4 linked regions of the Homo sapiens genome follow. The protein of the gene in region 1 purifies or fractionates together with the protein of each later gene. This does not show direct contact. Each region holds a gene or a part of one and is shown in the gene's direction. Other genes may lie near its edges.

What was found.
Region 2: the proteins of PHAF1 (region 1) and PSMG2 purify together in Homo sapiens (affinity purification with mass spectrometry; 4 studies listed by BioGRID and IntAct, with this or other methods). This does not show direct contact.
Region 3: the proteins of PHAF1 (region 1) and OCRL purify together in Homo sapiens (affinity purification with mass spectrometry; 3 studies listed by BioGRID and IntAct, with this or other methods). This does not show direct contact.
Region 4: the proteins of PHAF1 (region 1) and PPFIA1 purify together in Homo sapiens (affinity purification with mass spectrometry; 4 studies listed by BioGRID and IntAct, with this or other methods). This does not show direct contact.

The regions. Positions count from the first base shown.
Region 1 is NC_000016.10:67,105,347-67,112,954, forward strand, and holds the start of PHAF1 (phagosome assembly factor 1), read left to right. Parts: upstream 1-4,594; 5' UTR 4,595-4,829; coding exon 4,830-4,893; intron 4,894-6,092; exon of another isoform or gene 6,093-6,165; coding exon of another isoform or gene 6,166-6,214; intron 6,215-7,608. UniProt on the Homo sapiens protein: Plays a regulatory role in autophagic activity. In complex with BCAS3, associates with the autophagosome formation site during both non-selective and selective autophagy.
Region 2 is NC_000018.10:12,713,038-12,720,061, forward strand, and holds part of PSMG2 (proteasome assembly chaperone 2), read left to right. Parts: intron 1-5,479; coding exon 5,480-5,598; intron 5,599-7,024. UniProt on the Homo sapiens protein: Chaperone protein which promotes assembly of the 20S proteasome as part of a heterodimer with PSMG1.
Region 3 is NC_000023.11:129,543,248-129,550,271, forward strand, and holds part of OCRL (inositol polyphosphate 5-phosphatase OCRL), read left to right. Parts: intron 1-1,710; coding exon 1,711-1,790; intron 1,791-5,315; coding exon 5,316-5,354; intron 5,355-7,024. UniProt on the Homo sapiens protein: Catalyzes the hydrolysis of the 5-position phosphate of phosphatidylinositol 4,5-bisphosphate (PtdIns(4,5)P2) and phosphatidylinositol-3,4,5-bisphosphate (PtdIns(3,4,5)P3), with the greatest catalytic activity towards PtdIns(4,5)P2.
Region 4 is NC_000011.10:70,371,674-70,378,697, forward strand, and holds part of PPFIA1 (liprin-alpha-1), read left to right. Parts: intron 1-519; exon of another isoform or gene 520-538; coding exon of another isoform or gene 539-541; coding exon 542-717; exon of another isoform or gene 718-803; coding exon 804-901; intron 902-3,244; coding exon 3,245-3,420; intron 3,421-4,858; coding exon 4,859-4,927; intron 4,928-6,356; coding exon 6,357-6,522; coding exon of another isoform or gene 6,523-6,530; exon of another isoform or gene 6,531-6,798; intron 6,799-7,024. UniProt on the Homo sapiens protein: May regulate the disassembly of focal adhesions. May localize receptor-like tyrosine phosphatases type 2A at specific sites on the plasma membrane, possibly regulating their interaction with the extracellular environment and their association with substrates.

The DNA.
Region 1 (7,608 bases):
TGGAGACCAGGATCTACGCACCCAGTACACAGTGGTGGGACAGGGACAGAAAAATTGCAGGAAGCACTTGCCTTCAGAAAGGGGAAGAATGAAGTCACCGGTCAGTAACAATTATGAAATGACACTGGAAACCATTTGAGGGCCCTCTGCCCTAACAGAGGGGAGTGTTCTTTGTAAGGCCTATTAGGATGGGTTCCCTGCTCCACCATTTTCCATGACTTTTAGCCCCATCCCTCATTTGCTGTACACATTACCTGTCATTCCTGCTTTCAAACTGGCTTTAAAAAAAAAAATCTAACTGGGCGCGGTGGCTCACACCTGTAATCCCAGCACTTTAGGAGGCTGAGGCAGGTGGATCACCTAAAGACAGGAGTTCAAGACCAGCCTGGCCAACATGGTGAAACCTCGTCTCTACTAAAAATACAAAAATTAGCTGGGCATGGTGGCACGTGCCTGTAATCCTAGCTACTGGGGAGGCTGAAGCAGGAGAATCGCTTGAACCTGGGAGGCGGAGGTTGCAGTGAGCCGAGATCTCACCACTGCACTCCAGCCTGGGCAACAGAGTGAGACTCCGTCTCAAAAAAAAAAAAGAAAAAAAAATAACTTGGCAAATGCAATTAATAAATAACCATGGTACTAAGATTGTTTTCCAAGTTCTTCAAGTAATGTTTCAAGCTTGTTACATTTCTTCCCTTCCAAGTTATCACGTGACAGTTTTACCAGAAGGATTGACATCCTTCCAAACGCCAATGTCAGTTCCTCCAATCACCGTCCTTCCAGCTACCCAAGCTGGGAAAACTATGTCGTTATTCTTGACTCCCAGTCTCTCTCATCTCCCACATGCAATCTGTAAATCCTGCCAGTGGATTCCATCAATTCTGTTACTATTAGATGTTTTAAAATTTTAGTTATACACAAAGCAATTACCTGTAAGCCAGACACACAAGTACAGACCTCCTAACAAATCTGTGAGATTGTTACAGATTTTACAGAAGAAACTAAGGCATGGAGAGGCTAATTAACTTGTCAAGGCACAAAGCTATTAAGTGGCAGAACTGGGATTCAAATTTTGAGTCCCTGAGCTTAATCACCATGTTCTGACCTGAAGCTGTCCCTGCATGTCTGGCTTTGACTGCTACCATGACTACTTGCCCTCCCTGAATATGCTTTTCATTAGCCAATTCCATATTTCTGAACATCCCTACCCTCAGTTTGGGGGAATGGCTGTAGCTGACATTCTCCTGAGTTGGCCTGCTCCTGCCAGGCACCTTCTGCTTCTATTGTGTGTGTGTGTATTGGGCTCTGGGCCAAGGCCTCCTAATATCACCATCCCAAAGCTGTTATTCCCACCTTGGATAAAAACCTGGGTGAATCAACATTAAATGAGCAAAGATAAACTTCTGTTTATTTTTTTAGAGATACAGTCTCATTCTTTTGTTGCCTAGGCTGTACTGGAGTGCAGTACATAGCTCACTGCAGCCTCAAACTCCCAAGCTCGGCCGGGCGCGGTGGCTCACGCCTGTAATCCCAACACTTTGGGAGGCCGAGGCGGGCAGATCACAAGGTCAGGAGATCAAGACCATCCTGGCTAACACTGTGAAGCCCCGTCTCTACTAAAAATACAAAAAATTAGCCGGGCGTGGTGGCGGGCCCCTGTAGTCCCAGCTACTCGAGAGGCTGAGGCAGGAGAATGGCGTGAATCCGAGAGGCGGAGCTTGCAGTGAGCCAAGATGGCGCCACGGCGCCACTGCACCCCAGCCTGGGCGAGAGTGCGAGACTCCGTCTCAAAAACAAAAACAAAAAGCAACAACAACAACAACAACAAAACTCCCAGGCTTAAGTGGTCTTCCCACCTGAGCCTCCTGGGTAGCTGGGACTACCTGCATGTGCCACCACATCTGGCGTGTGTGTGTGTGTGTGTGTGTGTGTGTGTGTGTGTGTGTGTGTGTACGGGGTCTTGCTATATTGCCCAGGCTGGTCTCAAGCTCCTGGCCTCAAGCAATCCTCCCACTTCAGCCTCCCAAAGTGCTGAGATTATAGGCATGAGTTACCACACCTGGCCAGATAAACTTTTGTTGTTGACTAACATTGTTCACAGAAATCTGCCTACTATTCCAACAGGGAATTTCTTAGGGCGCTCCCCGACAACTTTGTTCTTTCTGTTTGGGGGTTACCCAAATTAGAAATCCTTTTCACTTTGTTATCCAGAATGATGTGGTTTCTTCTTTGTCTTGCCTCTGGTACAACCCCACTGGGCTTATCCCACAACCCCACTGGGCTTATCCCACCCCAATTTAGGCCCCACCCATCTTTCTCCTCCAGAAATAAGTCCCCTCCAAGTTTTGAGAGAGTCTTGCTCTGTTGCCCAGGCTGGCATGCAGTGGGGTGATAATTGGCTCACTGCAACCTCTACCTCCTGGATTCAAGTGATTCTCGTGCCTCAGCCTCCCAAGTAGCTGGGACTGCAGGCATGCACCACCACACCTAGCTATTTTTTCTATTTTTAGTAGAGACGGGTTTTCACCATGTTGGCCAGGGTGGTTTCAAACTCCTGACCTCAGGTGATCTGTCTGCCTCGGCCTCCCAAAGTGCTGGGATTACAGGCGTGAGCCACCGCGCCCAGCCAGACACTTTTAATTGACTAAGATTGCTCCTCACCAATCTTAAGATTTTTCCCCAGATTTCCTTCCCAAGCTATCTAGCCCAGCTGCCCAACTAGGCTTTTCTAAACATATCTTTAATGCTTGTCATGATAAGGAATAATGACCCCCTGATTCCTGTCCTCTGCCACTCTATTAGGTATGATTGACAATGTTTTATTTTTCCAGAAATGTTCTTTCTTTTTGGTACAGCCACTGTTTCTTTTATTTTTGTTTTTACAGAAAAAAAGGCCGGGGGAGGGGGGTGGTGGGTGGTCATGGTATGCATACTTCTGCACCTGGCTTTTTTCTCTTGGAGTTCCTTCCACATCAACATAGAGACCTACTTCACTTTTTATTATTTATTTATTTATTTAGAGACAGGATCTTGCTCTGTCATCCAGGCTGGAGCCCCGGGGCTCAATAATCACAGCTCACTGCAGCTATCCTCAAGCTATCCTCCCACCTCTCAGCCTCTTGAGTAGCTAGGACTCCTGGCCCAACCTACTGCCATGACACCAGCTAATTTTTTTTTTTAATAGAGACTGGGTCTTGCTATGTTGCCCAGGCTGGTCTCAACTCCCGGGCTCAACCGATCCTCCCACCTCATCCTCCCAAAGTGCTGGTATTACCGCTGTGAGCACTGCTCTCAGCATTCACCTTTAAAAACATATCTCTATCTATCTATCTATCTATCTATCTATCTATCTATCTATCTATCATCTATCTATCTATCTATCTATATCACGGTTTATTTAGCCACTTCCCTACTGGACATCTCAGTGACCCAGTTCTGTTGTTTTGGCATACAATGCTGCAGTGGACAACCTTCTCCATGTAGTTCATTTTAATCAAACAGCGACTTCAAATTTTGATAGAGCCTCCAAAGAAACGCTAGTATCAAGCCAGTTTGAGAATTTAGTATGCCACTCTCTCCCCTACTGAAAACCTTCTTCCAGGGGCAATGTAATGGAAAGGACTTGGGTTCTGCGCCTAGAACCAAGGAGCCTTGGGTCTTTAACATCTCTGGGCCTCATGTATTCGCCTATGTAAAGTCGGTATAATCTCGCATCTCAGGTTGGTTGTGAGAACCCAGAGACTGCCTCCGTGAAGGCTTGGCATCAGCATAGGCCTCGGCTGTCCTTTAGTTTCAGGGTGTCCCGGGGCACGGGCCAAAACCTCAGGCTGAACCTGCTAGAGGAACCTTCCTGTCCCTTGCAGATTAGGAAAACTGTGGCACAGAAAGCGCCAAGGGGTTGATCAAGACCCCCACAGCTTTGGTCCACGCTGCTGCCGGCGGCTTCGGATCCTGGTCCCGGGGGACTGCGCACATTTGGATGTGGTCAGCAGGGAGGCCTGGCCTGGCCCCTTCCTCTTCTACCCAGTCCTCTCCCCGAACCAATTCCGACCCCTAACGCCCACAGTCCTCACTCGCTTACGGTTCGACCCTTGCCCCAGGGGCGACTGGGTGGGGCCGTCATTCCTGAACAACTAAAAGCTGCTGCGGCCAGCGTCACCTCCGGCCCCAACGGAGACGGTGGGGGCCGTGAGGCTTAGGGACTCCGCGTCCTCCCTCCTGCTGGGCCTCAGCGTGCCCTCTGTACTTGCCTTCTGCTACCAGTGAACGTGAGTGGGACGTGTGTGTAGACAGCAGACGGGTCTTGTGCAGCTGTGTGACGTGTGTGTTGTGTGGTGAACCCTTCTTTATGTAGATATGTGAAGTGTGTGTGCTGTGGTGCACAGATGTAGGGGCTCACGAAGTACTGGGCTCCTTGCTCCTAGAGCCCGAACAGTTCCCAACGTTACAGCCCTGCCCGACTCAGCCTCCGCAGAGACGGCGGCGGGACCCGCAGTTTGCGCGTGCGCGGCTCCGCCCCAGGCTCCTCCCTCGCGCTGGCACTCCCGCCTTCGCCCGGCCCTCCCCGCGCTTTACGGCCCGGCACGCCACTTTTACTGCAGTCGCGCCCGCCGCCGTCGTTGCCCCCGCTGCCGCGGCTGCTGCAGGTGAGGTGAAGTGAGGTGAGGTGTGGTGTTGGGCCGGTGCTGCTGCCGCTGCCGCCGGGGAGGAGGTGGAAAGCGGGGCTGTGGCGGGCCGGCGGGGGCGGCCTGTCAGCCGCTGCTTTGTCTCCTTAGCTCGGGTCCCTTCTGCGCTGCCGCAGGGAGGCCGCCCGGGCCAGGCGAGCCGAACCAATGCTGGACCTGGAGGTAGTGCCCGAACGCTCTCTGGGGAACGAGCAATGGGAATTCACGCTGGGTGAGTTTGGGGTCCTCTGTCAGGACCCCATTCGCTGATCCTTGCTTTCTCCTGGGCTCTTCCCACCTGTTCTCAGTCTCTCACGCCCCTGCGCCCGCAGCTCCTCACCTCTTTCGTCCTCTCGGCTCGCTGGGCTCCAGGCACTAGATACCCGCTCCAACTGGCCCGATTTGCCTGTCAGTTGCTCGTCTCGGGTCTCAGCAGGGTCTCTTCTGGGACGGTGGAACAGTAGTAGTAAAGACAATAATAGCTTGCTCTCCCCAAATGCCTAATGCCCGGCCCTGCTCTTTTTGGACGTAATTCTCTCTAGTACCCCTCGCCGGCACCTGAGGATAGGTACTGTTGTTATTCCCATTTCCATTTTACAGACTAAATAATGGCTGAGAAGTGGCTGACCCCTCTGATCATCACTGTGGCCTGTGGTCTGTCTCCCACTGCTTTTCTGGGCTGTGGCTTCCTTCCCCTTTTTAGGAGGGGAAACCTAGGCTTGGAACCCATGATCAGATGTTGGGGCTCTGGTCAAGGGAGTTGAGTTTGTGTGTATTAAAGGAACAGCTGACTTGCTTCTCTCTTTTTTTTCTTTTTTTTTGAGACGAAGTCTCGCTCTGTCGCCCAGGCTGGAGTGCTGTTGCGTGATCTTGGCTCACTGCAACTTAACGCCTCGTGGGTTTAAGCGATTCTCCTGCCTCAGCCTCCCCAGTAGCTAGGATTACAGGCACGCGCCACCACACCCGGCTAATTTTTGTATTTTTAGTAGAGACGAGGTTTCACCATGTTGACCAGGCTGGCTGGTTTCGAATTCCTGACCTCGTGATCCGCCCACCTCGGCCTCCCAAAGTGCTGGGATTACAGGCGTGAGCCACTGCACCCGGCCCCGCTTCTCTCTCTTTTGAAATATAGTCTGTATCGGATGCTGTAATCCTAAACCCAGACCTCAGTTGTGACAGGTGAAGGTTGGATGAAATAGGAGTTAGGGAGAAGTAACATTTAGTTTCTAAAAAATGCAGTTTGGTCGTTTTGGGGTTTGCTGGCCCAGCCTTCTCCCTTCACCCTCTCCATTTCCAGCATCACTACTTTTATGTGTACAAGGATGTTTGCATTCAGTAACCCCTGTGTGTTTACTTTGATGTCCCAGCACTAAGAAAAGGGGGTGGGGTAGGTGTTGGTGCTGTTTGTTTGTGCAGGCCTGAACTTTAGTCACTCTAGTGTGAGCTACTGGACTAAATCAGCTGCTCCATTGGATTATAAATTATCCTTGACTCTGGAAGACTTATGTCTGTGGAGACAGTGTGTTGGAGAAACCAGGTGGTACAGATTGCTGGTAAGGCCCTGCTGATGCTTAGTGGCTACATATGTCCTGTGTGTTGTAAGAGCTAGTTTTTGTTGTTGGTGTTTTGTTTTAAGACAGAGTCACTCTGTTGCCCAGGTTGGAGTGCAGTGGCACAATATCGGCTCACTGCAACCTCTGCCTCCCGGGTTCAAGCAATTCTCTTGCCTCAGCCTCCCTACTAGTAGCTGGGATTACAGGCGTCTGCCACCACACCCGGCTAATTTTTGTATTTTTAGTAGAGATTGGGTTTCGCCATGTTGGCTAGGCTGGTCTCGAACTCCTGACTTCAAGTGATCCGCCTTGGCCTCCCAAAGTGCTAGGATTACAGGTGTGAGCCACCATGCCCAACCATAAAAGCCGGTTTAATTTAGGGGAGTTGGCCAAATTCTTTCATAACTTAACACCACTCCTGCAGAGTTCTTTCCAAAATATTAGCTGGTACAAAATGCTCCATTCTCTCGTGAAGCACTAAGAGCTTGGTTGGAAGGCTGGTGATACCATGCTAATGCTGTTTGGCTTCTGGTTAACTCCTTTCCTCCCCTCTCCTTGACAGCTTCTACCCAAGCAAGATCCTCCCACGGCTGGATAAAAACCACAACCATAGCTTCAAACTGTGCTTAGTAGTGTGACTAGGTTGTGGATCTCTTGGTGGTACAAGTATTCAGAGTCCCTTGGTCAAAAGCAGTGGTAGGGACTGGGTGCAGTAACTCATGGCTGTAATCCCAACACTTTGGGAAGCTGAGACAGGAGGATAGCTTGAAGCCAGGAGTTCAAGACCAGCCTAGGCAACATAGTGAGACCTCGTTTCTACCAAAAAAAAAAAAAAAAAAAAAAGCCAGGCCTGTAGTCTTAACTACTCGGGAGGCTGAGATGGAAGGATCACTTGAGGCTGGGAGGTCAAGGCTGCCGTGGGTCATGATCACACCACTGGGCGTGATCCTGGGTGACAGAGAGAGACCCTGTCTCAAGGAGACAAAAAAAAAAAGTAGTTACTAGGATATTAATTGAGATGAGGATTTCCAGAAAACTGAGTGAGAGAGCAAGGCTTCTCTCAGCTGTTGTTTTGATACCCTAACCCTGACTCCTAGCTCTGCTAGTTTCCCAGGAATCAAGGGTTTACACAGTTCTTACAAACTGTCTAAATAGCAACCAAAAACAGTGAGAAGGGCATTTCTGTATATTGGGTCAAGAATTGAATTTTAGGGGGAAGCTCATAGACTGGCCCAGAGGCTTCATGATTCCCTTGGGTCTTAAAATTCATTTTTACATGGTGTCTGCCTGAGAGATGGTGTTAATTTAACTTTATCAGACTTTAAAAATGGAAAGTCATTTTCCACCTCTGTCAATCTCCTCCCCCACCCTGAACACGTCCAAACTACATTTGG
Region 2 (7,024 bases), on another chromosome or scaffold:
ATTTGTATTACCTTTCAGCTGGTGGCATCTACATATAAACTATGTATATATCAAATTATGTATATGTCATAAAATATTCTGAATCCGACTTCTTTCCTCCTCCACTGCTGTCATTGAGTGCAAACCAGTGTCATCTTCATGCCCCTGACTAACTTGCTGATCTGCCTCCCACAAACAGCAGCACTGATGATCCTCTAAACGTACACCACATCACTACTCTCTTTGAAACCCTCCAGTGGCTTCTCCTCTCACTCAAAATTGTGATCCAGGAAAAGGGGCTCGCTTCCTGATGCACTGTGACACCAGGTTTTTGAGACAAGAAAGGCTTTATATTGCAAATTGACTCCCAAGGAGACAGGAGTCGACCTCAAATCTGCCTCCCTGTGCTGACTTCAAGGCAGTGTTTTTATTAGAAAAGGTTCAGAGGGTGGATTCTGAGATCAGTAGGTGAGCGATGGAAGGAAAGGGGACATCTGGAAGGTCCTTGGGCATGCACAGTTATCTCCTCATGCTAACTCATAGGGCTCATGTGCCAATTCAGGGGAATGAGTATGAAACGTGATGGAGAGTCAGCTTGCGACACCAGGAAGCTTGTTCTCTGCAGACTCTACTTGGCCATATTGGTTCCAACCAATTTCAGCCAGTTCTTTTATCCCATAAGGGGAGGAAGTTTCAGTATTTTACCAAGTAGTTTCTTATCTGCTACCCTGCAAACTCAATAATTTCTTTCTTTTTTTTTTTTTGAGACAGTCTCCTCTGATGCCCAGGCTTAAGTGCACTGATGTGATCTCAACTCACTGCAGCCTCTGCCGTCCTGGGTTCAAGTGATCCTCCTGCCTCAGCCTCTGGGATTACAGGGACACGCCACCACACTGGCTAATTTTTGTATTTTTAGTAGAGACGGGGTTTTGCCATGTTGGCCAGGCTGGTCTCCAACTCCTGCCCTCAAGTGATCCACCCACCTTGGCCTTTCAAATGCTGGGATTACAGGTGTAAGCCACGCCCAGTCCAAACTCAAGAATTTGTTAGTCATTGGTTTCTTTAACTCTTTGAGGATGGTTTCAAATTCACAGCCCTTACTGTGGCCTATGAGGCTGTATATCTGTGCTAATACAGTAGCCACTAGCTACATGTAACTATTTACAGTTTAATTCATAAATTTAAAATTCAGTTCCTCACGTTCCAAGTTCGCAGGAGCCCCATATGCAAAAAGCCAGCATAACAAGAGTCATGCTCACAGGAGCTCTGCCAGACTGCTGCTTTGCAGAGCCTAACCTGCAGCCACACTGGCTTCCCTGTGTTGTTAGACATTAAGCTCATCCTGTCTCAGTCTTTCCACTAGCTTCTCTGCCGAAATTCATTTTCTTAGAGACTCCAATGGTTTGCCTCCTTTACTGTTTTCTTAAATGTTTCTTCATGAGAAAGGCCCTCCTAAACAATCCTTTCTTCCTTTTTTTTTTTTTTTTCCTTGAAACAGGGTCTCTCTTGCTCTGTCACCCAGGCTGGAATGCAGTGGCGTGATCTTGGCTCACTGCAACCTCTGCCTCCCAGGCTCAAGCCATTCTCCAACCTCACCCTCCCGAGTAGCTGGGATTACAGGCATGCACCACCACACCCGGCTAATTTTTGTATTTTTTTGTAGAGGTGGGGTTTCGCCATGTTGCCCAGGCTGGTCTTGAACTCCTGAGCTCAAGCAGTTCATGCTTCAGCTTCCCCAAAGTGCAATGGCGTGATCTCAGCTCACTGCAACCTCCGCCTCCTGGGTTCAAGTGATTCTCCTGCCTCAGCCTCGCAAGCAGCTGGATTACGAACGTGTGCCATTGTGCCCGGCTAAGTTTTGTATTTTTAGTAAAGATGGGGTTTCACCATGTTGGCCAGGCTGGTCTCAAACTCCTGACCTCAGGTGATCCACCCACTCCACCCACCTCAGCCTCCCAAAGTGCTGGGATTACAGGCATGAGCCACTGTGCCCGGCCCTCTTTTTTTTTGAGGCAGAGTTTTACTCTTGTCACCCAGGCTGGAGTTCAGTGGTGCAATCTCAGCTCACTGCAACCTCTGCCTGCTGGGTTCAAGCGATTCTCCTGCCTCAGCCTCCTGAGTAGCTGGGATTACAGGTGCCCGCCACCACACCTGGCTAATTTTTGTATTTTTAGTAGAGATGGGGTTTCACCATGTTGGCCAGGCTGGTCTCAAACTCTTGACCTCAGGTGATCTGCCCGCCTCAACCTCCCAAAGTAGTGGGATTACAGGTGTGAGCCACCACACCCAGCCGAAAGTAAGCTTCTGAAAGGAATGATGAAGTGTCATTTACTTTTATATCCCCAGCTCATAAGATAGTGTCATGCACATAGAGAAGCTCTCAGTAAATATTTGCTAAGGGATTTTTTGGAATGACCTGAGGTATCATCTTTTCAGGAGGTTAGAAATACAGGATTTTAGTGACATGGTTAACTGCATAGTACTTTTTATTTTAACTTTTCTTTTTGAGATGGAGTCTTGCTCTTGTCGCCCAGGCTGGAGTGCAGTGGCGTGATCTCAGGTCACTGCAACCTCCGTCTCCTGGGTTCAAGCAATTCTCTTGTCTCAGCCTCCTGAGTAACTGGGATTACAGGTGCCCGCCACCACGCCTGGCTACTTTTTGTACTTTTAGTAGAGTTGGGGTTTTGCCATGTTGGCTAGGCTGGTCTCACACTCCTGACCTTAGGTGATCTGCCCACCACAGCCTCCCAAAGTGCTGGGATTACAGGCGTGAGCCACTGTGCTCAGCCATTATTTTAACTTTTTATCGAAGTATGACGTACATGAGAAAAGTGCACAAATCATAAATATACAGCTTGGTGAATTTTCATGCAGTAAACCCTCTGTGAAACCAGCTTTCAGATCAAGACATAGAGCATTGTCAGCATTCCAGAGGACCCCATAATGCGTCCTAGTCAGTATTCTATTGGTGGAATTCTGTGGTATATACTTACAGCATCTAGCTTCCTTTCTTAACATTCCCTTTGCGGGGTTCACCCATGTTGTTGGAAGTAGCCATAGTTCATTCGTTCTCATTTCTCTGTGGTGTTAAGTTGTATACATAAGCCATAATTTTTCCATGGTACTTTTGATGCTACATTTGATTATTTCCAGTTTGAGACTATCATGAATAGTGCTGCTAAGATTATTTTTAATTCTTATACTAGAATCACTGCTTTCTTTAGTTAACATTATATACCCAAAGTTTTGCAGTTAGAGTTGGTAACATTTTTACATTGTGCCACATGGCTTTTTGTTCTCTTTCTAATCAGTGTAAGTTGAAAAATTATTTAACGTATAATATAAATTTTTGGCAGCTGGAAGTAAAGAGTGAATTTTTTTTTTTTTTTTTTTTTGAGACGGAGTCTCGCCCTGTTGCGCAGGCTGGACCGCAGTGGCATGATCTCGGCTCACTGCAAGCTCCACCTCCTGGGTTCACGCCACTCTCCTGCCTCAGCCTCCCGAGTAGCTGGGACTACAGGCGCCCACCATCACGCCCGGCTAATTTTTTTGTATTTTTAGTAGAGACGGGGTTTCACCGTGTTAGCCAGGATGGTCTCGATCTCCTGACCTTGTGATCTGCCCGCCTCAGCCTCCCAAAGTGCTGGGATTACAGGCGTGAGCCACCGTGCCTGGCCACAAGACTAATTTCAAAATAGCAAACATTTATTGAGCATTGATTCTTTGTGCTGATACTGTTCTAAGTACCTTATATTTATTACTTAATCCTCATGACAAACCTATAAGACAGATACTAATATTATCCTTATTTTTCAAAGGAAACACTGAAGTACAGAAAGATTAAGCAATTGCCTGACACATGATCTTAGGGAGGCAGGACCAGCACTCTAACCCAGGCAGCCTGGCTCCAGAGCTTGCCTTTTTTCTTTTACTTTTTTTTTTTTTTTTTTTTTTGAGACAGGGTGTCACTCCACCCAGGCTGGAGTGCAGTGGCACAACTATGGCTCACTACAGCCCTGACCTCCGAGGCTCAAATGATCCTCCCACCTCAGCCTCCTGAGTACCTGGGGCTACAGACGTGCACTACCATGTGTAATAATTTTTTTTTTTTTTGTAGTAACAGGGTCTCACTATATTGCCTAGGCTGGGCTTTAACTCCTGGGCTCAAGTAGTCTGCCCACCACGGCCTCCCAAAGTGTTGGGATTACAGGAGTGAGCCACCTTGCCTGTCCCAGAGCCTGCCTCTCTTAACTGCTGCACTAGACTACCTTCTTATTTTAAAAGTTAGCCTGCATTTCTCTTACCTGCATTTTAAATTTTATTGAGTAGTTATTTTATGAGCAGTCTTTGAAAAATTTTCATAAAGCGGGCTCCCCCTGAAATTTTATAACCCACATTCCAGATTTACCAGCTGTGAATGTCTTGCCACACCTACTTGATCTCTCGCTATGCGCGTACACAGTTTCCTTCTTCGAAACAATCCAGAAGTAGGCTAGCAATGGTCACCCCTACATACTTCCGCACACATCTTTCAAGAACAGGACACCATTACCACACCCAAGAAAACCAGCATTTAATGAATTTATTCAGGAGTATCATCCAACATACTCAAATTTCCACAGCTGTTCCGAAAGTATCCTTCAATTCTGGATCCATTGATGGTTCACAGGTTGTATTTGGCTGTTACATCTTTTTAGTTGTTATCCTTCAGAGTAAAACTGGCCTGCCCCTCTTTCTTTCTTTACAATATTGACTCCTTTGAGGAACCGGGGCTGGATGTGGAGCATTCTCCATTCATCTGATTGTTTCCATGTGACCAGATTCGGGTCACAAATTTCTGGCAAGAACCCTTCACAGATGACCATGTATTGGTTATTAGGTAACAATAGATTACTCAAGTAGAGAACTGGGAAATTGTCCTTTGTCCATCACAATAGATTTTTTTTGAAATCTAGATTCCTCATGATTCATTGATTTCTTTTCTTTTTCTTTTTTCTTTTTTTTTTTTTTTTGAGAAAGTTTCACTCGGTTCCCCCGGCTGGAGTGCAATGGCACAATCTCGGTTCACTGCAGCCTTCACCTCCTGGGTTCAAGTGATTCTCCTGTCTCAGCCTCCTGAGTAGCTGGGATTATAGGTGCCTGCCACCATGCCCCGCTGATTTTTTTATTTTTAGTAGAGATGGGGTTTTACCATGTTGGCCAGGCTGGTCTTGAACTCTTGACCTCAGGTGATCCGCCTGCCTCCCAAAGTGCTGGGACTACAGGCGTGAGCCACCATGCATGGCCATTGATTTCTTAATTATAAAGATACATTAGATAATTCATTGCTCTTTATCATTCACTTTCGGTTTAAGCACAGTAAGTGGATCTGAAAATAATTTCAGTATATATAAATTATATATCATTATCACATAAAGTTGATGAAATAGTATATAGAATGTTTGTATGCTCTAAGACTAACTTTTAGATTTTCTTTTTATTCTCTCAATGGTGTGCAAAGTATAAATCAAAGCCATTCTGTGAAAAACTGCTTTCCTGGGTGAAAAGCAGTGGCTGTGCCAGAGTCATTGTTCTTTCAAGCAGTCATTCATATCAGCGTAATGATCTGCAGCTTCGTAGGTATGTTTCTGCCTCTGGAAAGTTATTTTTGGTATGGTTTATACTATGATAATTTCTCTATTAAAAAGTTAAACTTTAAAAGCCACGTAGATCCTTACCTCTTCTTACTGGAGTTTAGAAAGAGGGGGGTAAGAGAAGGTCAGGAGATGGGAGGGAGTACAGTTAGGCAGATCTTTTCAGTTCCTGTGAGCTTAGTAGAGTTGGGGCATGGGGAAGACATCGTGTAGAGAGAGAGAGTTTGGGAACCATGTTTTTAGTGTTTCCCGTCACATACATGGCAACATCACAGAGCTCAGCTAATTGAAGAGAATAAGCAGAAAAGGTACTCAAGATTTATAAAGTTGCTAACTTTTGAAAGGTTAATATTTTCAGTTATTTCCATATGTTACCTTGAAAGATTAATATTTTCAGTTATTTCCATATATGCTACCATTTTTTAAAAAACATTTACTTTTTGTAGAGACAGGGTCTAGCTATGTTGCCCAGGCTGGTCTCGAATTCCCAGGCTCAAGCAGTCTGCCTGCCTCAGCCTCCCAAAGTATTGGGATTGCATGTGTGAGCCCCCCGCACCTGGCCACATGCAACCATTCGTATTTGCAGAAATCCACTTGCCTAAAGGGTAGCTCCCTGGCATGTCAGAGTGAGTTCTTAAATGTAAGACAGAGTATCCCAGAAATAGAACTATAAGCTATCATTACCACATAAAGTTGATAACATATCATATAGAATACTCTTATACTCTAAGATGTAGCTTTTATTTATTTATTTTTGAGACGGAGTCTTGCCCTGTCACCCAGGCTGGAGTGCAGTGGCATGGTCTCAGCTCACTGCAACCTCCACCTCCTGGATTCAAGCGATTCTCCTGCCTCAGCCTCCTGAGTAGCTGGGATTACAGGTACCTGCCGCCACGCCAGACTAATTTTTGTAATTTTAGTGGAGGCTGGGCTTCACTGTGTTGGCCAGGCTGGTCTCAAATTTCTGACCTCAGGTAATTCGCCTGCTGGGTCTCCCAAAATGCTGGGATTACAGGCATGAGTCACTGTGCCCGTCCCCAGGATGTAGCTTTTTTTTTTTTTCCTCTTTTTTTTTTTGAGACGGAGTCTTTCTCAGTTGCCCAGTTCTCAGTTGCCCAGGCTGGAGTGCAGTGGCGCAATCTCGAGTCACTGCAACCTCTGCCTCCTGGGTTCAAGCGGTTCTCCTGCCTCAGCCTCCCGAGTACTTGGGACTACAGGCGCATGCCACCACACCCGGCTAATTTTTTGTGTTTTTAGTAGAGACAGGATATTGGCCAGGCTGGTCTCGAACTCCTGACCTCAGGTGATTTGCCTGCCTGGGCCTCCCAAAGTGCTGGGATTACAGGCATGAGCCACCACGCCCGGCCCCAAGATGTAGCATTTAGATCATTTATTTTTTATTTTTTATTCTT
Region 3 (7,024 bases), on another chromosome or scaffold:
TAATTTAGTGGGTAACACGTAGTAAATACTCAATAAATGTTGGTGAAATTCACTTAAATTCTCAGTTTATTTGTTTTGTAATAGTTTTTAACAGTACTGTCCAGATGAAGCTTTAATGCTAATGTTCAACACCATTTCTTGTTTATGTATTTTGAGATTTTAGTGGTTTGTGTTTATCTTCCTCAAAGTAAGCTCTTCCTCCTTAACCCTTGATTTCTCAGCCTTTTATCTGGTTTCTGGTTTCCATCTGGGTTTATAGGACTCTCCACTCAACTCATGAACTTTCCAGATGGAAAGGGGCCTGCCCCATATTCCTGTAATCACCTTAGAGTACAAACCCCTGCAAATTAGGCAAGAAGGATCACAGCAGAAAAACAGCATTAATACTTTTATTTCCCTTAGTTCTATCTAAGTAATTACTTATCCTATCCCAGGTTATCCTCTTCAAAGTTAACACATTTGAAAATGCAAAAAGCAAAAGCAACAAGCACCCCCAAAAGACAACAAAATAGAAATCAAACCCTTCAAAACAATGACATTTTAATGTCAGAAGTTGGACAGTTTCATTGAAAAATTCACCGCTGCTTATAGCTTAATTAAGCTAGTTAATTTATTCAGCCAGTATTTGTTGAGCATCTATTAGGCTGCAGACAAAACTGAATATGATCTGGTCTTTGCTTTCAAGGAGCTGAAATCAGTGAGGGGAAATAAATATAACCATAATGGAGTGTGTAAGTGTTCTATTAGAGGGGCAAACAAAGGCGATAAGGCTGCTGGTTCTGCTTGGGGGTACTGAGGACAGTTTCATGGAGGAGGTGATATTTGAGATGAAACTCGGAAAGAAACAGAGTGTTCCTGACAAAAAACTAAAAACAATACTTGAAGAGTGCTTGACTTTGAGAATGCTAGTTGACGTTCAGAATGGCTGTTTACCAGTAGGTCGTACCTTGATTCTGGACCACTAAGGATAAATAATAAATGAAAAATTAATATTTCAGGAGTACGTATGGATTTAGAAGTATGGATTTCATCTGGGGAGTCAGGTTTACTCATGTTTATGTAGAAATACCAGCGTAAACTTGGAAACCAGAGAAGAAACAAGGGATTTGAAGGCAATCCAGTTGTGATATCTGCCACCTTGTTGGTCACTGATATTTTGACCAATCCAGCTGGCTGAGCACCCCCTCTTACTCCTCCATGAACCTGAATGCTTGTTTGAAGAGACAGATCCATTCTTTGGTAAAAAGCCATGGGAATATAATTGGAAGGTTAATTTATGAATTTTCTAATTCATTGATTCCACACACACGAGCAACTCCTGTGTGCCAGGCTTTGTGCTAGGTACTAGAAATTCCGTGGTGTAAAGATAGCTGTGGTCCCTGCACTCATGGACTTCACATCTAGCTGTCAGTTCTTCACTCTGGTATGCATACTCTGAAGCTATATACTCTGTAATTCATGCTCTTAAGCTTGTACACTGTTTTTAGGATATATGGCCTAGAGAACAGTGTGGGTAATCAGATGTTCATCACCACTAGCATCCTTTTAGGCCTAGAGCAATATCTAGCTGTCATGATGCTCAGATCCAGGGAACTAGATGCAGCAAGTCTAGTAAATACAGACTAGATTTGTATAACAGGACAGTGAAGTATTTTTTTGCTAAATGAGTTTTTCAGTGGCTGTTCTTTGATGCGTTCTTCTGTTTCCTAGGTTAATAATCCAGTTGCATGAGAAGGAACAGCATGTTCAAGATATCATTCCTATAAATAGCCACTTCAGATGTGTTCAAGGTACTAGCTTTAATTCCTTAGCTAGTTTTATAATGTTTTTTCTCGGTCATTACTGCATTATGTAATACCATACATATTTAAATTTGTCAGTGCATGTAAAATGAAATGTATTACTCTTTGCATAAAAAGATAACATTGAGGAGATGATACTTTCTCTAAGAATGCTGAAGGGTTATATCGAAATATATTTGTATATGTGTGTCTATAGTCTCACCTGTTTCCTTGGCTTGGGTTAGAGATGTATGTAGATTGTTACCTGTGTAGGTAGTTTTTTATGCTGACTGACCTATATGTGGATTTAAATAACATTCTTGGGCTTAACGGACACAGTGCTCATAAGGTACCAAGGTCACTTGGATTCACACACATTCAGCACTTTCTCCACATGCTATTTGAAATTAAGACATTTGGCAACATGCCTTGCCAGACTGTAATATCTTACACTCAATTGTGCTGATTCTCAAACCTTGACATTGGTGAATCATAAGAAAATTGACTCTGGGGAGGAAATATTTGGCCTCCTGCCCTCAAATTTGGGGACGGAGCATAGAAAATCTGTTGTTTCATCTGCTACAATGAAACTTAAAAATTGGGAGGTTTGTGTAGGAGGTGTTGCTTCTGTCATCTCACATTGCTCTAGAAAGGAAATTGATACTAGAGAACAAATGCATTCTGTTTTCACTAGGACCAGTGGCTTTATCTAGCAGAAGCATTCTGTATCAATTGTAGCTTCTTGGAAAACTTGTTTTTTCAAGACAAGGTCATTTCCCAGGCTCAAGTGATCCTCCCACTTCAGCCTCCCAAGTAGCTGGGACTGCAGGTGCACCACCCCCCAGCTAATTTTTTTTGTAATTTTTGTAGTGACGGGGTTTCGCCATGTTGCCCAGGCTGGTCTCAAACTCCTGAGTTCAAGCAATCTGCCTGTCTCGGCCTCCAAAAGTGCTGGGATTACAGGTGTGAGCCAGCATGCCTGGCCTTTCTTGGAAAACTTAAATCTTACCTTGCATGGATTATTTCTTAAACTACATTGAACTTTTTTTTTAATCACTAAGTGACATGTACATAATGTAATACATTTGGAAAGAACAGAAAAGTGTAAAGAAAATAGGTCACTTAAATTCCCATCCTTTCAGAGATAAACACCTAGCATTTTCCTTTTTTCTACACATACATTGCAGGGTGAGTGATACTCATCTTATACAATTTTTTGTCTCTTCTACATGCTATTGTATTATGAGCACTTTTCCATGCCATTAATGGCTATATACCATACCAGTTTATGAATGGTCCATAATGTAATTATTCCCCTATGTTGACATTTGGGTTATTTTTCACTAGTATCAATAGTAATATGATGAACATCTCTGCACCTAAATATACCTGCACATCTCTTATTTCCTCAGGATGTATTCCTATAAGTGAAAATACTAAGCTAGTGGATATGACTTTTTAAGAATGCATGTGTTAAGAATTAAAAATAACTTCAATGAATAGTGTCCATATTTGTATGGAAGAATGAAGTGATAGCTATTTAGCCTGCCCTATGTGAGAGAGACATACTAAACAAGGTAGCCACGTTCCATAGTAAGTTGCTGTGGCCACCTCACTTTTCAAGGTGTAGGCCTTCACAGAGGGGAAGAGCCAAAGAACATGACTTTAAATTAATATCCTATTAGCTTTGTACCTTTTTACTCTACCTCTAGGATCTCTTTTACCCTGTTTCTCTTAGTATTTTTAATAAGAAATCAATTGCTGATTGTTAGATCGTAGTGCTGCTTCTTAGAACCTGGGAAAATATGTGCACACATGTAACGTAGTTCCCCATGACTAAAGGAAGACTTACTTTTGATTTTCATCTCCTTTCTATTTCCTGACCCCTGCATCTATTTTGTAAACTGTGGCCAGGCGCGATGGCTTGCACCTGTAATCCCAACATTTTGGGAAGCTGAGGCAGGAGGATTGCTTGAGCCCAGGGGTTCAAGACCAGCCTGGGCAACATTGCGAGACCCCATCTGTACAAAAATAAAATTAAAAAAACAACATTTGCCAGACGTGGTGGCAGATACATGTAGTCCCAGCTACTTGGGAGGCTGAAGCAGGAGGGTTGCTTGAGCCCAGCAGTTCGAGGCTGCAGTGAGCTGTGATTGTGCCACTGCATGCTAACCTGGGTGAGAGAGTGAGGCCATCTCTAAAGAAAAAGAAAACCGGCTGGGCGCGGTGGCTCAGGCCTGTAATCCCAGCACTTTGGGAGGCCAAGGTGGGCAGATCACAAGGTCAGGAGATTGAGACCATCCTGGCTAACACGATGAAACCCCGTCTCTACTAAAAATACAAAAAATTAGCCGGGCATGGTGGCGGGTGCCTGTAGTCCCAACTACTCGGGAGGCTGAGGCAGGAGAATGGTGTGAACCTGGGAGGCGGAGCTTGCAGTGAGCCGAGATCGTGCCACTGCACTCCAGCCTGGGTGACAGAGCAAGACTCCGTCTCAAAAAAAAAAAAAAAAAAAGAAAAAGAAAACCATCTGTAAACACTCAGGTTTTACAGAACTAAAAGTTAATGAAGAACAGTAGTAAGCATACAATATCTATGTCTTGATGCCCTAATTCCCCTTGTTTAATCATCCTAATAATAATATCGAGACTACTTTTTAGTGTTAAAGGAGTTAGTTCCTTGCCAGTTGCTTCTGTTGTACCTGAGTAATGGAGCCAAATAAACAATTCAGTCTTGGGAGGGAGGTGAAAAAGGTGAGACTACTCCATTTGACCAAGGTAGATCCAGGCTAATCCCAAGGAGTCAGTACCCAGAGTTCAATTAGCCAGGAGGGTCTGGCAGGTGCACTTGGTCAAATCCAGAGAAATCAGAGGGGAAGAGATAGGTTGGGTCTAGACACTTGTTGTAAAGGAAGAAGTCCAGGAGAACCATTGAGAGATAAGAGAAATCCAAACTTGCAGACTGCTTTGCACCCTGTTTGGTACGGAGGGCCTTGGGCCCACAGGTAGTAGTTGTAACCTGAAGGTATACTCTGCCCCCATGTGTGGGGCAGGGGCAGAGGTGATGAGATCACTGGGAAATTTTCAGAGAATAGATCTGAGTTAAGAAAGTAATTCACCTCTGGGCTTTCAGGGTCACTTCCTTTGCCTTCTGTTATCTAAAGAAGTATCTAAAGGACCCAGAGTTAAATCATTATGTTACAGTTAAGGGGAATTAAACTTGCTTTCGCTGAATTAACATGTTGTTATGTTCTGTACTATTAATTTCTCATTCGTTGATTTGCTTTGAGGAGTTCCATTTGGTTACTTCTTCAGTTCATTTTTATTTTAGTTGATTTGCTCATAGTCTTTAGAACCCAGTGCTATAAAAAATCCCTTTAAAAAATATTAAACGAAAAGGGATTTAAAAAAATATGTTCTAAGACCTAGGAGTAGTGACTGAGAGAAGCAGTTATTTAGTTAGGCATGTATTCTTTTGGTTGTAGTGAGTGGTTTTCTCTTCCCTAATCCTACTCTCTTTTTTTTCCCCTCTCAGAAGCAGAAGAAACTCTTTTGATTGACATAGCTTCTAACAGTGAGTATCTTTCTGAATGTGCTTGATTTTTACTCAACAAATATTTACTTGAACACTCACTACATTTAAGACACCTTTTGGGGCACATTTTTTATTTTACCATCTTTTCCTGTAGTCTCCTGTAGCAGCCATACAAATTAGCACTGTTTCCCAAAAACATGTAGGCTAAGCCTAAGAAAAAGCAGGTGGCTGGTAAGAATCTTTATAAAAATAAAAAATAATGATCTACCTTTCTAATGCTGAACTTCCGTGAGCTACCAGTATTGTTGCTGTCAGTTGAATCATTGCTGTAGAATTGATAATTGTAGGAAGGGCTGATGTTTAAAGCACATAAGGTTTATTGGTGGAGTTTTTTTGGTCATTTTTTAACTGCTATTACATTTTAAGTTTTTTCCCTACCCTCTTTTTAAATTTTGTGTGTTAAGTCATAATATTTTCCTTTATTTGTTGTATTTTTTTGGAAGGCTGAAGAGTCCCTTAAATTGCTTGTCCAGGCATTCCTTTAAAAAAAAAAGTTTAGTCTTTTATTTAAGCCCCATCCCCTCAAGGCATCTCTTTATTAGAGGGAACATGATCTTCTTTTCAATGTTTCCATTCTCTCATTTTTATCTGTTTGAAGCAAATCATCTTTGACTTTCTGTGCAAACTGTTCTTTGTTTATCATCTAATTGTACTATTTTATGGAGTGGAGAAAATGGGCACTCGATGCTACTGTGAGGTTGCTATGGAAAAGAGTATCTGACCACATGAATCTAAATCAAATGGGTTGCCTTATCTCTTGGTTGAGTCCTTGGATGAGTGGGAACTGGCACTGAGCTTGGGACTAGGGGTTTACATAACTTTGTTTAGACAGTCCCTGCCCTTGGCACTATTAATTTGTATTGAACACTTTAAGTAGGCTTTTTTTCTGGCTTGAGTTTTTTTTTTTTTCCCTTTGGTCGTGAATTTTAGAAGTCTTAAAGGCTGTGCCTGAAAGGCCAGGTAAACCCCAGCTGCAAGTATCCAAGAGAGAAAATAACTTAATGTCTATTTCTTATTGTGCTTAGAAAGGAGAAGGCAAAAACAACACTTAAAAAAGCAAAACTAGAACAAAAGCAATTCCATAACAACTGACACTGCTGCTGAAATAAGAGATGGAAATGTCCTGTATTTGATGTGGAGAAGTATTTGATTCAAAGCTGAAAAGTTAAACTGAGCTGTGCCTTTTCTCTTATAAGCACCTAATTTTCGGCATTAGTTTTGTTGTGGCCGCTTCTACATTAGCCATGTGTTGCTATGTCCAGAGTTCTAGTTACTGGCTCATAGGGGGAAAATAGGTAAGTGACCACTTGAATAAAATCCTTTGTTATTTCTACCCATTTAGTAGTATTTGCACTGAAACCATATTTTATCTTGATCCTTGGGCTTCATACATAAACCTTTATGGTACACGGTGTGTTGCAGGAAGGAGATCTTGGGTTTGTTAGGCAGGCCTGATTTTAATGTAAATATGCATTTTCCCATTGTCTGGATATTGGTGTTAAATGCTTTGTAAATAATTTTTTCTCACAGAAGTAATACATCTTCATTATATACAATTTACTAATTCAGAAAAGCTTAAAGTATCAAATTAAGATTATTTTCCTGCAATCTAGAGATCACCACTGTGGTTAACATTTTTATGTATTTCC
Region 4 (7,024 bases), on another chromosome or scaffold:
GTTGAATTTTTTCAACTATAATTGTGAATTTGCCTGTTTCCCCATTTAGTCCTGTTGGTTGTTGCTTTATCTCTTCTCTAAAACTATATTTTAACTGACTTTTACTGATTTTGAAATGGATTTTTTCTTTAGGAAAACAAAGTGTTAAAATGTAAACCAACCAGAGATAATTTTAGTGAGCAGTGTTGAATTGAGCCTTCAAACTTGTTCATGAGTCGTGATCAATCTTTGTCACATTATTATACTAAAAACTATCTCAGAGAGGAAATTTATAGCCAGTTACAGTTTTTTTGTAGTTTGATTTAAAAGTTAAATTTATCACAACGAATCATATATTTTTCATGTTACTATTCCTGTTGTATAAAAATTTTACTAACAAATTTAAAAGGTGAGAAGAGATCAAATTATTTTGCAATTATAAAATTATCATTAGTTTAGCCTTTGAGAATATAGGTAATAGATTAAAAATTCATTTTAAAAATGATATAAACTACTTTTGAGACTTCCTCTGTAACTGACCTTTTCCATTTATGAAAAGCAGACACTCGCCTATGGGGACATGAACCACGAGTGGATCGGCAACGAGTGGCTCCCCAGCCTGGGCCTCCCCCAGTACCGCAGCTACTTCATGGAGTGCCTTGTAGACGCCAGGATGCTGGACCACTTGACCAAGAAAGACCTTCGAGGGCAGCTGAAAATGGTCGACAGTTTTCACAGGTAACTTAATGGAGATAGTTCTTAATAATTGGCTAAGATTTTTCACTGTTACCATCTCTAAATCATCTCTCTTTTCTTCCAAATAGAAACAGTTTCCAGTGTGGAATTATGTGCCTGAGAAGGTTAAATTATGACCGGAAAGAACTGGAAAGAAAAAGAGAAGAAAGTCAGAGTGAAATAAAAGGTTAGTACATGACATTTAATTGATTCGGTTTACTCCTACTTGCTGGTGTGTTTGGAGCCTCAGTGACTTCCTATTTTTCAAAAAATCAAGAAAGGCTAAATTTAAGTGGAGAAAACTAACTAGTCTAGTGTCATTGCAGAGGAGGGCTGGATGAAGTTGAGTGCTTTTGAGATTCTCTTCCACAGCTAGAGAACTGTTCCCTGTGTTCTCACACATCAGTCTGGAGGTTAAATGTCTCCGGCTAGTCGTTTCCTGTGAGTTGAGAGTTTTCCTTTGGTCATGCCCTGTGTACTCCTTCACTCCGAAATGCTGTTCCACACTGTTAGATAACAACAGAGCAAAGCTCACTTGATGATTCAAGTGTGAGAAATATGACTGGGGGCTTATCCAAGGGGTTCAGGAGAACAGGAGAGCACCGTGCAGTTCTGCTCCCGGAGGGGAAGGAGAGGCAGCGTCTGCATTTCAGCTGGTCCTTGAAGAAGGAGGAGGAGCTGCTTAGGGTAAGGAAAAGGCATTTCAGTTGGAAAACACAGGCCAGGGAGGCGTTAGAGGATGTGAGACATTCATCCAGAAGACGTGGAGTTGGTTCTCTTCTCCGTTGGGGAGTCCCTCACTCGTACTCAAATTTATTTGTTTGTTTGTTTATTTATTTATTTAATTTATTTTGAGACAGGGTCTTGCTCTGTAGCCCAGGCTAGGCTGGAGTGCAGTGGTGTGATCACAGCTCACTACAGCCTTGAACTCCTGGGCTCAAGTGCTCTTCCTGCCTTAGCCTCCCTAGTAGCTCCTGGGAGTACAGGTGTGCTCCACCATGCCTGGAATTTTTTTTTTTTTTGTAGAGACAGGGTCTCGCTATGTTGCCTAGGCTGATCTCGAACTTTTGGGCTCAGGGGATCCTCCCACCTTGGCCTTCCAAAGTGTTGGGATTACAGGTGTGAGCCACCACACCCAGTCAGAATTTGCTTTTAAAATTAGACAGTAAACATTAAGCTCAGAGTAATGACTCCCAGAATTCCTGGAATGCAAGGAAGTCACCAATAACAATAATGATAAGAAGAGGCCAGTCTTACTAACAGTGAGTAGGTGCCAGGTGGTGTTCTAAGTACTCAGGGGTTGCTTTCTTTCATCTTTACCTTAGCCCTGTCAGTCTAAGTGCTGTTTTCATCCCCACTTTATACTAAGAAAGAAACTAAGGATAAAAATATGGTTGGGAGATGGCCCAGTTGAAGGGAAGTCTACTTGTGATTGAGTTAATGTGAATCAGGAGAAAAGTCGTAAGTCGACATTTATACAGTGTGTGTATATGTATGGACTTTTATCCAGAAAAGGGCATTGGCAATGAAATATGTCCATCTGTTTTGTTTTCTGTATCTATTTTACATCTTTTTCCAATAGACAAAGATCTTTGGAAGTGTCTTTGGAAGTGATTGGTGATCATCTGCATATATTTTTAGAGTGGCTATTTTTAGATCTAATAGAGCAAATTGAATAATTTGTTAATTTGCATAAGATATTGTGGCTGGGCATGGTAGCTCATGCCTGTAATCTCAGCACTTTGGGAGGCCAAGGCAGGAGTATTGTCTGAGCCCATGAGTTCAAGACCAGCCTGGGGAACATAGTGAGACCCTGTCAGTACAAAAAAATTAGCTGAGCTTCGTGACACACGCCTGTAGTTCCAGCTCCTCAGGAGGCTGAGGTGGGAAAAATCACTTGAGCCCAGGAGGTTGAGGCTGCAGTGAGCTATGATGGTACCAGGCTGTATCCAGCCTGGGTGACAGAGCAGGACATTGTCAAGAAAAAGAGAGGAAAAAAAAAGATTTTCTGCAAAGTCTCTAATGTGCTGGATGATATTGTTAAGTTTCTCTCATTTTAAAATGAGACAAAGACTTCGAGATTAGAAATGAGAGGTTTCTGTTGAATTGAGCAAAGTGTTCATATTATTATGGAGCCAGCTCCATCCGTGATGAAGTATTTCAGAAGACTCTCCAGTCTGTGTGTGAAGCATGTTTATACATGTTAGGTATTCAAGTTCTTGCAGTCCTCTGGCTTCTGATCCCTGGATCCTCATCATCTTCTTTTCTCTAGAAATAATAACTTCATTCCTCTCGTGCTCACTGGAAGGATGAGTTCTAATGGGAGAGTCTCCCTGAGAGTGGAGCAGGGCCAGGACACCATTGTCTCAGTGCAGCAAATGGTTGTCTATTTAGCAGTGTCTCCCAGCACTTTTCTCAGGAGCCGAAGGATTAGGAACCATGGTAGGAATCTTTCTCCTGCATTACAGGGTACATGTGATAAAGATGGCTTTCTGAAGCCACTTTTATAATTGTCTTTATTCTTTTGCAGACGTGCTTGTTTGGAGCAATGATCGAGTGATTCGCTGGATCCTGTCAATTGGCCTTAAAGAATATGCAAACAATCTTATAGAGAGTGGTGTTCACGGAGCACTTCTGGCCTTAGATGAAACCTTCGACTTCAGTGCACTGGCACTGCTGTTACAGATCCCGACGCAGAACACACAGGTGACGCCAAACCTGTCTGTGTCTGCACTCATTGTTCAGTTGGCACCCTGATTATAGACAGCTAGTTATTCGAATAGAAAGAAACTTTAAAAAAAAAAAAAAAAAAAAACTTCAGACAACTAGTTTTTGGTTTTTTTTTTTTTTTTTGGTCTATTGGCTTTCCCTTTTCTGTTGGAAGCATGAGAGTCCTGCAATAAACCAGATAAGGACGATCTTTCATTCCAGCCCATGTGCCTGATCAGAAGAGTGACATATATTTAGTTCTTACATGGAAAGAGAAGTGTTTTTAGGTGTGCCACATGAAGATTTTATTAATTTTGTTTTTATGGGTAATTGCCTTATGCCATTCTTTTTGACTCATGGGCTCATTTGAAAAACAGGGAACTTTTATTCCTCTACAGAACATTGAATATGCCAGGCAAGGTGGCTCATGCCCACAATCCCAACACTTTGGGAGGCCCAGGTAGGCAGATTGCTTGAGTCCAGGAGTTCGAGACCAGCCTGGCCATCATGGTGAAGCTCTGTCTCTACAAAAAAATACAAAAAAATTAGCCAGGTGTGGTGGCACATGCCTGTAGTCCCAGCTACTTGGGAGGCCAAGGCAGGGAGATTGCTTGGCCCGGGAAGTGGAGGTTGTGATGAGCTCTGATTGCGCCACTGCACTCCAGCCTGAGTGACAGAGTGAGACCCCCATCCCAAAGAAAAAGGAAAAAAAAAAAAAAAAATTGAATATCTTTGGCCAATACCCCTGACCAACCCACACAACACACCCTTGTTAATATGACTCCAAGGATCATGGATCCCTTTCTGCAAAAGCCCATCCATTGACTCCACATTAGATGCCCTGATTTAAAATATTATTATGGTTCAATGTAGTCATAGCAGTGAGGGAGTTGTTTTTTTGTTTGTTTTGAGATGGAGTTTCGCTCTTGTTGCCCAGGCTGGAGTGCAATGGTGCAATCTTGGCTCACTGCACCCTCTGTCTCCCAGGTTCAAGTGATTTTCCTGCCTCATCCTCCCAAGTAGCTGAGATTACCGGCACACGCCACCGTGCCCGGCTTATTTTTGTATTTTTAGTATAGATGGGATTTCACCATGTTGGCCAAGCTGGTCTCAAACTCCTGATCTCAAGTGATCTGCCTGTCTCGGCCTCCCAAAGTACTGGGATTACAGGCATGAGCCACCACACCCAGGCCCTAATTTTTGTATTTTTAGTAGAGACGGGGTTTTACCATGTTGCCCAGGCTGGTCTTGAACTCCTGACCTCAGGTGGTCTGTCCGCCTTGGCGTCCGAAAGTGTTGGAATTACAGGCGTGAGCCACCAGACCCAGCCAGCAGTGAGGGAGTTTAAGTCTTGGTTTAAAAAACAATTACGATGCTAACACCCTTCAAATTAGATTTGATGAAAGTTTTATTTGTTTTTCTTTGGTTATTTCAGGCTCGTGCTGTCTTGGAAAGAGAATTTAACAACCTTTTGGTCATGGGGACTGATAGAAGGTTTGATGAAGTAAGTTTTTGGCCTAATGTTCTTTAAATGTCTGAAATGTGTGTAAATGTTTAAATGTGTGTGAAATGTAAGCTGTTATTATTATTATACTTGGGACATCATGTAGCTAGGCAGTCTCTCTGGATGTTAGAAGTCAGGCTTTGCTCTTATACATTTATTCACAAATGAGCCTTTAAAAACTAATACCTGGGCCGGGCACGGCGGCTCGCACCTGTAATCCCAGCACTTTCGGAGGCTGAGGCGGGCGGATCACCAGAGGTCAGGAGTTTAAGACCAGCCCGGCCAACATGGTGAAACCCCATCTCTACTAAAAAACACAAAAATTAGCCGGGCGTTGTGGTAGGTGCCTATAATCGCAGCTACTTGGGAGGCTGAGGCTGGAGAATCGCTTAAACCTGGGAGGTGGAGGTTGCAGTGAGCTGAGATCGCACCACTGCCCTCCAGCCTGGGCGACAGAGAGAAACTCCATCTCAAAAAGAAACCCCCTCCCCGCAAAAAAAAAACCCACAAAAGTAATACCTTCAAGAAGGTAGTTTTGTTTTTATTTTTGCTATTTAATTTTTGACATCCCTCAAAAATGGTTTTCACATCATAAAACATTGGTTGCAGCTTAGGAACAGAGTCTGTAAGTTGGGTTTTGGGGACCAGTAGTTATCCTACCCCAGTCCAGAGTGTACCCCCATACTCCTGTGCATGGGTGGGGTGGCATGTTTCAGAAGTATATTAAAAACACAAAATGTTAATTTCCCCTTAAAACCATGACTCATTTGTTCCACACGATTAGGAGTCTCTTAATTGGACCTTAAGAAAAGTTGAGTTTGACAGAGAGAATAGAAGACCACCTCTAAAGATGAAGCACTTGTTGCTATATCCTGGCATAAGATAAAATTGTTTCTAGTTAAAAATTGTTTGTAGAGCTGCGTGTGGTAGGGGCACACCTGTAGTTCCAGCTACTTAGGAGGCTGCGGTGGGAGGATGGCTTGAGCCCAGGAGTTTGAGGTTACAGTGAGCTATAATCACACCACTGCATTCCAGCTCGGGCAACAGATCTAGACTCTGTCTGTAAAAACATAAATAAAAATGAAAAATAAACTATTTTTAAGATAAATAAAAACGTATTACGTTGCAAGAAAGTGATTCCTGCAAGGTGTAAGAAGTAGAACATGATGCTGTGGAGAAGGAGCACATCCTCATGGCCCAGCACCGACCTCATTTCGCCAGCTGAGGCCCAGCCGGACCATCACCATGCCCCGTTTCACGCTGAAGTTCCAGGTTGGGCAATATATTGTGTGGTCATCAAGAAGGGATTAAATACATGTGGACAAGAATACATTCTCGAGATCAGCAGTCATTTTAAAGGACATGTAACTTTACATCTCTGACCTTTATTTTTTAAATGAATCTTGTTTTTTGTTCCTTAATTTACCAGGATGATGATAAAAGCTTTAGGAGAGCACCTTCATGGAGAAAAAAGTTTAGACCAAAGGACATTCGTGGCTTAGCTGCTGGGTCAGCAGAGACTCTCCCTGCAAACTTCCGGGTGACTTCTTCTATGTCTTCCCCCTCTATGCAGCCAAAGAAGATGCAGATGGACGGTATGTGATGGGTCACACTAACCTGTCACTTGTTGGGAGCATGAGCAGCTTTCTGTCTGGAACATTAATAATGATCTAAAACGGCCTATTTAATATGTTACAAGGCACTTGAGTATGGTTGCATGTCCAAATATAAATGTTTTTAAATTAACTCTAACATTTGTTTATAAAAGTTTAACCATAATAATAGAATTTTTAAAACACGCTTGTCTGGTTGAATCTTAGCATATTTTTCCAACTAATAAAGCTCAGTATTCGTCTGTGTTCTCAGAGAGAGACTGAGGCATACTTGTAAATTTGTGTCTGTGACAGGCCGTGCTAGAAAGCTCTTTCAGGAAATAGTAGTGTAGTAGTAGCTTCCAAACCACATAATTTACTGCTCTCCACACCAGAGAAAATAACTGAGTACATTTTTAAGAACACACAGTTTCCAGCTTGTGTGAGCTCTGCCTATGCTTTCTGCCCTCCCTGCTGCTGCTGTTCCGTGCAGTCACATGTCTAC